Regions from separate parts of the Homo sapiens genome. Here all the other regions are reported to be linked to region 2. Evidence: microRNA targets listed by miRTarBase, many of them from high-throughput screens and not tested one by one. Region 2 holds a microRNA gene; each other region holds the end of a gene's coding sequence.
Evidence for each region. The annotated mature microRNA hsa-miR-383-3p reads ACAGCACUGCCUGGUCAGA and lies in region 2 at 1,335-1,353, opposite strand. An mRNA with a match to its seed (bases 2 to 7 or 8) in the 3' UTR can be bound and repressed. Matches are read on the target gene's strand: a 7mer-m8 pairs with bases 2 to 8, a 7mer-A1 pairs with bases 2 to 7 and ends in A, and an 8mer does both.

Region 1: miRTarBase lists TMEM164 as a target of hsa-miR-383-3p. Seed matches in the 3' UTR shown: 7mer-m8 at 621-627 and 8mer at 1,543-1,550.
Region 3: the mRNA of TJP1 is a reported target of hsa-miR-383-3p. Seed matches in the 3' UTR shown: 7mer-m8 at 1,408-1,414.

Annotation. Positions count from the first base shown.
Region 1 is chrX:110,173,032-110,176,031 of GRCh38, forward strand. TMEM164 (transmembrane protein 164) reads left to right here. Exons shown (of 7, transcript NM_032227.4): 7 at 214-3,000. The coding sequence ends at 420. It overlaps LOC124905230, which reads left to right and starts at 2,742. Exons shown (of 2, transcript XM_047442708.1): 1 at 2,742-2,786; 2 at 2,885-3,000. The coding sequence starts at 2,742.
Region 2 is chr8:14,852,109-14,855,108 of GRCh38, forward strand. It overlaps MIR383 (microRNA 383), which reads right to left and starts at 1,402; the gene lies at 1,330-1,402. All of the region lies in intron 1 of SGCZ (sarcoglycan zeta), which reads right to left.
Region 3 is chr15:29,699,006-29,702,005 of GRCh38, forward strand. It overlaps TJP1 (tight junction protein 1), which reads right to left. Exons shown (of 28, transcript NM_001330239.4): 28 at 1,147-2,684. The coding sequence ends at 2,590. Among named protein-coding and RNA genes, the nearest start is that of LCIIAR, 26 kb to the left of the region's middle.

The sequences.
Region 1 (3,000 bases), not on the chromosome of region 2:
TCCACTAGACGGCCCTCCGCCATCACCTCCAGAGGCCTCTAGCTTGACTCACTCAGAAAACCGAGGGGAGAGAAGAAATCCCTTTATAAACAGGTGGGGATTGGTCAATCCCTCCTTGTCTAGTCCCCCATTAGGTAGAGATGGCTGAACTGGCAGAAGCCAGAGAAAGCCTAAGGATGGTGAACGCTCACTCTACCTCCCTTGTCCCTGCAGGTCACCGAAGTGAATTTGAACAACATGCTGTGTCCGGCCATCTCAGACCCATTCTACGGCCCCTGGTATCGCATCTGGGCCTCGGGACACCAGACTCTCATGACCATGACCCACGGGAAGCTGGTCATCCTGTTCTCATACATGGCTGGGCCCTTGTGTAAATATCTGCTGGATTTGCTCCGGCTTCCAGCCAAGAAAATAGACTGAAGGTGCTTATTTTTTTTTTTTTTCCTCCCTGAGGAAGCAAGTCGTGACTTGACTTGGAGAACACCCAGTTCTTGATAAAATCATGGGAGAGGGCAGTAGGATGTTTGGTGTATTTCTTTTTCCTCCTTTCTGTCCCTTTCTTCTACCACTCTTCCTTTCCCAGCTCTTCCCCCTACGATGTCTCCTTGAGCCTGGGGTGTAGTGCTGGGCGCTGGATTTTCCTCCTTCCCTTTGGCTCTCTCTCTGCTCCTAGTGGCCTTACATGGGGAGATTGCAGTGAGCGGCTCTTTCACTCTGCTTGTCGGTGCTTTAACAACAGCTGGTTGAGGAGAAAGGGAACAACAAGTAGTAGTTCTTTTGGCATCGAAGCAATGAGATTGGGTTGTGTTTCATTTCTCCACTGCCAGGGACCTCCAGGCTTATGCTGGCGTCCCATTTAGTCTCCAGCACAGCCCTTACCACGGGGGACTGAGGCCTTGTTTCTATACCAGCGGCAAGCCCAGAGCCGAGGGATTTCACAGCTCGTGGTCAAGACAGAACCAGCCAGATTCTGGTCACTGGTGTCCCATGACTCAAAGTAAACAGCCAACCAGCCACTCCCTCCAGGATGCTGCCTGGGGTGGGAGGTGAGAGCACCACCCAGCCCAAGGGCTAGATTCCATTGAGAGGGTTGGAGATCTATTGCAATGACAAATCCAAAGTGAAGAGGGTCAAGATATATACAGTACTAGGCCAGACCCTGTGTAAGTTCTGCCTGTGAGAGTTGAGAACTGATGCATATCCCAATCAGAAGTGAGCACAGAAAACTGTGATTTGAATCATACACTCTGTTTTAGGAAAATGTTGATAATAGATACCATTTTAATCTTGAGTGCCCCTTAAATGTGTTCCCTCTCCCTTTCCCTCTCCCCCCACCCCTCCCCCTCCCCCCTCCCTCCCTCTTTCCCTCTCTCAGGCAGCTTCAGGGAAGAATGAGCTGGAATTGGCTGGTTGGTTGGTTTTTGAGTTTGGAGAATCCTCGCATCAGGGCCCATTTCTGGAAGATTCTGTAGATCTGTTTCTTGGTTTTACAGGGCCAGTGTTGTTTCCCTAGGGCCAGATTTCTTCAGTGTATCCACACTCAGTGCTGAATTGTTTAATGTGGGGGACATCACGTCCTCCTCATCCTGTCTACCCCCAAATCCCATGTCTAGGTTGAAAGGGGGCTGCCAAAGAATTAAGTCCTCATGGGTGGAGGTTCAGGTGCTCCACAAGGAGGAGCTTTTGTTGAAGGACTTCAGCTCAGTTATGCACGGACCTCAAGCAGGCAGGAAGTGGCTGGGCATTGCTGACTCCACATTGACTCCCACTAGGAACAGATTTGCTTAAGAACAGAAAAGCTCATTTGGTGATTTTGTCTGATGAGCCTCCCTTCCCCTGTCCCACTCTAGGCAACACAGTTGACCTAGACCAGTTCCAGTATTTCCAGTTTGACCGTGTTTGACCTACACTGAGCTTCGGTGCCTCAGTGGTCATAATTTTAGCAAGTGGACCTATAGGAAGCAACCCTGGGAGGGACCGTCCTTCTGCAGAGGCCTGCGGGCATTGAGGCTATCAATCCCCAGGGCTTGGGGAGCAGGAGGGGAGGGCACCAAGTGCTCTTACTCTCCTGAGCTCCTTTTGATGCGTAAGCTTTGTTTTTGGCCCTCTTTGAAGGCAGGGCCAAACTTTTCTTAGTGCCTCTCACCTTAGGGTGGCCCTCCAGGGAAGGTGCTCCTTGAATGGCTGGATTGGCCCTGCCCACCGTCAAACTGCTACATGTAGGAATAGCTGATGAGGAAATACACAAGGCCTCAGTGCCCCTTGGCCTCTTTACAAAAGGAGAAGTTGGAAGGGGATTGTGGGAGGAGCCCCTGGGGGCCTGGTCTGTCCTCCACCAGAACTTGGAGTTGCTGCCAGCAGAGGATCTGTGCCTCAGCTGAAGACTAGCTCCGGAATGTCATAGGGGTGTGACTGTGTAGGCCTTCTCCTCCTCCTCGTTTCTGTGGCATGGCACAGGTTGCCTGGTTGCTCGAGCCTTCCCCATGTTGACATCCTCCACAAGCTTGCCTTTGCTCTGTCTACAGCTTAGTACCCCATTCTGGAGGGCACTTTCTGGTGCTTGGAAGGAGAGAAGAAAGCAAAAGCCACATGCCTGGCATGGCCAAGCCAGAGACAGATCCACCTGTCAGAGGAAGGAAGAAGTAAAGGGGGCATGCAGGGCTTTTGGGGGCCAGATTGGCTCAGAAACATGTAGGTCAAAAGAATAGAGGGGGCCCAGTCTATAGGCTTCACAAGGAGCCATGGCCTGTATTTGGGGCATTGGGGAGCATAAGGCATCTGAACTGGTCCAGATCTCACTCTTATCTTGGGCCAAGCCAACGTGGAGAGAAGCAACCCAACCAGACTCTTGGCAGCCTGCCTTACAGGGTAGCCCACCTTATAGGGTAGCCCTCATATCTGCCCTGTGCCGGCCCTCTACTGCCCCAGCTTTGGTACAGGAGTGAGGGAGAAGCTGGAGCTTGCACACCCAGTGGCCAGTGGGGCTGTCTTCCCAGCTCC
Region 2 (3,000 bases):
TTATTATTTTTTTAAAGAGGCAATGCTTTAAGACTTCTCCTGCCAAGTCAGCTCCAGAAATAAAATCACAAAATCTCAAGCGCAATATTTTTTCAGTGATACAAAATAATTTCTGTAAATATTTGGAGCATGTACTATATTGCCTTATGTTCAAGTCCAAGAACCATCTGAAAGGTAGAAATAGTTCATCAAGGTAAAATGTATTCTACAGTCATAATACTTTGTAAATAATTTATAGGACAAAAAATATTCAAAGATATCTCAGTTGATATATGGCTACAGAATATTCTTATGCTTCTAAATATTAAGGAAATAGTAAACTGTAACTCAAGAAAGGAAGCTGTACTTATTATATGTGATTGAGTAAAAGTCTAATCAAAATCAAAAATTAATTCAACAAAAGTTGCCATCGAGTACACACCAGCCCAAAGTAACAAACACCCTACCAACAATTGCCTGAAAATATTCTAGAATTAATTTTCACCTCAGTTGAACAATTTATTGACTTTTTTCCCTGCACGCCAGATGCCTATAGTCTCCCCTACAAACATCTTGTCTTTTCCATTTTTGTTCATATTTAGTTTTTGGCAACCACAGCTTGTATAATTACATTATGTTGGAGCAGGACCATATTAAGGAAACATTGCAAAGTACAAAAAATTTTCTTTGGCTCACCTCCCATCTGTAGTGTTTCATGGAGTAATAGCCTTTCTCTGCATCAAAGTCTTTCCTGGATTCCTGTGGTATTGTTCCCAGAATCTCCTCGTCTAAACTCTCCTGAAGCGTTAGCTCCTAAACACATATGTTACTATTTCTATGGGGCTTTTCCTTTACTAGGAATGGAAAACACTGTTGAGATGATCAGATATATACTGCTGATGAGGCAGCCACACTTACCAGCCAGAGGCCAGCTCTGCTTCTGAGGATACATAGAAAGTATATTCCAATAGCGGCCTTTGCATGTGTGCATTATAGCAGCATTCATATTTGAAGAAAGTCAAATTAAAGCATGCATATAAAACTTGTACTATTTGCAGTTTGAAGATTTTGCCCATGAATTTCAAATGTCTGCATGGAATCCCAAGTTATTTTCTCTTTATGGTATAAAAATGTTAAAGAGTGGGGAAGAGGAGGTAATGATCAAAATGCTCATGTGAGGAAACAACTAGGTATTTTATGAGAAAGACAAGCTTCCAAACACAGGTTAAACATGGCACTTTTCATCTCACCTGAAGCATGCTGGCCACTCCAGTCCACCAAATGCAGTTCCCTTGGGACCTACGCTGGATGGATACCCAAGGTCTCATGAGGTAAAGGCTAGGACACTTGCTCTTTCTGACCAGGCAGTGCTGTGGCTGATTAATATCCACCCAAAGCCACAATCACCTTCTGATCTGAGGAGCAGGTGACGGGGAGATTCTGAAGTCTCTTGATAAATTATGCAAACATAATCAAACAATACACATTGCAGGTTAAAAAAAAATTCAGTCACTGAAGTGGTTTGCTTTGTCCTTTAAAGAACTGAATCTAAATAGATTGTCATCAATCATTGGCAGTTCCTAGAATGACAACGCTGAGAAATTAGTATTACATGGGTACCATAGAAGAGCTATTTTCTTTCCTAGTGAAACGCTTGGGAAAGGAGAGAGGAAGGGAGAAAAATAAACAAGGCTTTTCTAACTACTGTTGGAATTTTCCTTTCTCTGTTCTTTCTTCAGATGAACCAGAAGACCAATTTAGTCCCAATATCCAATGCTTTCACATGACTACAGCTTATCCTAAGCCTTCCTTCCTCCTTGCCAATACAAAATACACACCTTTCAAGGATCTTTCAAGGCCTATATCAAAGGTCGAAATTTGCCTACTCCTAAGTCATTCATTTTGTAACGACATCAGTTTCTATGTGATTATATTATATATATATATATATATATATATATATATATATCCTTTTGTATATATATTCTAATTTTATATACTCTGTCTAAAGCTACAATATCTCCTTGCACAGAGTCACAAAATGTAAATTGAAATACATTATTGTTATTAGTTTGATTTTTGTGTTACCTCATCTTCACTATTTAGTAATCATCTTAAATGCAGTAACTTTTGACTTGTAAATGTTGGGCTTTTGACACAGAGTTGGTGTTAACAACATTATATGCAAAATGACTCACTTTACTATTTCATTCGCAATTCACAAAACAAAAAGTTAATTTGTATTCATTGAATAAGATAATACATAGACATATCAAAAATATATAATTTGTAGTTTATTTAGACTCAACATTGTTCCACAACATATCTAAAGCAGAAAGAAAAGATAAAAATATACACATTTATTTTTACAATAAATACTGTCAATAAGTTATCAACTAAATATTAAGGCACTTCTTAGATTAATAAAATTAATAAATTTCACATTGTGTAATATTGTTTTCATAATAGGAAGCCAGTGGTTTTCATTATTTTTCAATAGTCATCGTAGATATGATTATTGCAAATATAAGATATTTTGAATACATACAGTAATATAGTTTGGTGTTAAACAGTAGAGAGAAGAAGGATTTACTGGTCCTTCTGATTTCTTTTTTCACTTTTGTTGGATTATTTCAGGAATACCAGCAGGAATTAGTTTGCTATTATCATTTTATTTTCATAGAGAGGAAAGGAGAGAGTAGGTCAATTGGGATCAGTCTCCCAGGGCATATAAACCCGGCAGAGAGTGGCCCTCTTTAATCTCTGCTACCCTAGACATCAAAGGCTGCACTGCCACTATTCACAGAGATATGTCAGCATGTCCACAGGGGCCTGAACAATCATGCAGAGGTCCATGCTATGGCCTCTCTTGGGAAATCCCGCTCCCGACTTTATCTGGTATGCTCTCCCACCTCCCTCAAGATCTAACTTTGATGCAACTTCCTAGGCATCTCCATTATTTTATTTATTTATTTATTTATTTAGAGACGGAGTCTTGCTCTGTCACCCAACTGGAGTACA
Region 3 (3,000 bases), not on the chromosome of region 2:
GAAGTCTTTACACTTTGGGCTAAGTGAAGATTTCTCTTAGGATAGAACATCTTAGTGAAGATATGACAAAAGCATAATCTATGAAAGAACAAACTGATTAAACTAGACTTCATCAAACTGAAGTCAAGCGAAATGAAGTAACGTTTACACAAAAACCTGTACGCAAATGTTTATAGCAGTTTACTAATAATCTCCCAAACCTGGAAACAACCCAGAAGTTCCTTAACTGGGGAATGGATAAACAAGCTCTGGTACAGCCACACAATGGAATACCACCTGGCAATAAAAAAGAACCTGCAACATCATACATGAATCTCAAATGCATCATGCTAAGTGAAATAAGCCAGACTCAAAGGCAACATATTGTATGATTCCATTTATATGACACTGTCAAAAAGGCAACTATAGAAACAGAAGAGATCATCCTGCCAGGGGCTGGAAGAAGGGTTGAGTATAAAGGGGTACAAATGATTAGAGAAGATAAAGAAACTGTTGTATGTATTAACCGTGGTAAATAAACAGTATGTGTTTGTCAAAATTTGAACTATACATTTTAAAAACAGTAACTTACTCTATGTAAATTATACCTTAACAAAGATGAAAAAAATAAAATCCACATAGATGGATTCAGTCCACAAAGGTGTTTACTGAAACACTATAGCAATAATCCAAATGTCAACAGGGGTGGCAGTTAAGTAAGTAGGATGTCCACAATGGAATATTTATGCTCACTAAACCCATTTTCTTCCCCCAAATGTGGGTGACATTAAACAATGCCCGTGCTATTTATCTGGGGAATAAAACCATATACAAATGGTTACACGCACACACACAAACGCACGTGTGTCCCCATGCAGGGGTGTTTCTCCACGCAGGGGTGTGTGTTTACCCACAGGGGGAAGTCGGCCTGCTGCCTTCTCCCACTCTGTCTCCAGGTCCTTCTGCCCCACTTCAGTCTGAGCCCTTCAGATGAGCACTGCCCACCCATCTGTACATGCTGGCCAAGGGGAGAAATTCTGCATGCAACACCAGACGACGAGGTGGTAGGTGACGCTGGGTGATAGGGATTTGTGTGCAGGATTTTAAAACAGGATTATAAAGCTGCATGAAACTAGAAAACAGTGGGCAAACAGACCAAGCCAGCACTTTATTTTAAAAAGTTTTATTTTGGAGATTTAGAAATTTGAGATTTTTAATAACGGCAAAAGAAATTCAGTCACACCTAATGATTAACAGAATGTAGTGGTGTATTATCTAAACAGAAATCGTGCTGATGTGCCATAATAAATTGTCTATTAGTAAAAAAATACACTTTAGGGCACAGCATTGTATCACAAATTACAGTAGGGATACTTTGCAAGAATTTAATCAAACTAGAGAATTCTGAGTAACTGTATCTTTTAAATGCAGCACTTAAAAATGTAACAACTCTGTGCATCCTTTTTCTTAAAAAAAATGACCTTGCATGTGTCATAGAAACGCTGCTTTATTGCTGCAGAGGTCAAAGTTCAAGGCTCAAGAGGTACAGGAGAGAATACAAAGGTAGCCTTTAGAAACGTGGTCTTGTTTATGTATAAAAAAGGTAAAGTTTATAAAAGTTAATTTACAAACCAAGAACAAAAGTGGTATGCACGCATTATGTACAAGCATCCTTAAAACATCAAAATTTTCAAATGCATAGCCAGAAAGAACAGAAAACCACCACTGCCCCTTGTCAAAAAAAAAAAAAAAGAAAAGAAAAGAAAAGAAAAAAATATCCCCAAATCACACCACTATTTTCTTCTGGGTGATAACACATTTCTGAAACCACCAAATGCACAACGTACTCAGTCTTTGTCATGATACAGTATCTAGATAATGCACAAAAGCCATAAAAACTTAGTAACACAAGGAGAATGAGCTAAGAATTAAGAACATGAGGGTAAGGCATTTCTGCTGGTTAGTATGTCTGTGGTAATATGGTGAAGTTAGAGATCTGAAGAGGCCATGGAACCAGTCTCACATGCTTTTGTATCCTTCCCTAAGAAAAATGTGTTTTCATGTACAGTAAGTCATTGTCTTCACTTCACCCTCCCCCAGTTGTAAATCTCCTTGCTGTACATTTCTGTTAAATCCACAACACTGGTTATATATTCCAGGTGCATTTAAAAAATGTGTGCATATTACTTCATGCATAATAAAATAAAATGTGTACGTATGCTAGGCCAGGGCCATAGTAAAGTTTGAAACAGTGTACTTTGGAAAGAACAGACCTCAAATGCACCCCCATTTACTGGCTGGTATTTTAACGGAAATCAATATGTGAAGTTAAGCAGTGACGATAAAAAAATTACAAAAATCACAAAGCAAAATATCTTTGAACCTCTAGCCAATACCAACAGTCCCGTCAATCACAAACATGCAGTGTGTAGCATGTTTTCCGACCATGGTTCAGGGGCATGCTCACTCATCTTTATCAGTTCAAACAAATGCCTCATACTAACAAACTGTAGTATCAACTCTAAAAAAGGTATAATACTTGATAGAGTGGTTCCATTTAGATTAAGTTTAATCCAGTTTCACATTATTTAAGTTCCTATATTTCAAGAGTTAAAAGTGGTCAATAAGGACAGAAACACAGTTTGCTCCAACGAGATAATTTGGATCTCCGGGAAGACACTTGTTTTGCCAGGTTTTAGGATCACCTATGAGAGAAAAGAAGTTGATGTCATTTACAGTTCAGTAAACTGCTATCCGTAATGCTTTGCAATTATAGGGCAAATACGTATATTTAGACATAATTTTCTTCTGTTTCTTCAGCATATTGAATTTGTATCAAAACACATTGCTGTATTTCAAAGCAGATCTGCTGGCATCTAACAATTCCAAAGGTGTTTCACACTTCTAAAAAAATTTTTTTTAAAACGTTCTTTCTAACTCACACCATTAAGAACAGTTTTTTGTTTTTTGTTTTTAATTTTCAGACTTCTCCTTTATTACATTATCAAGTGCATTGGCCTT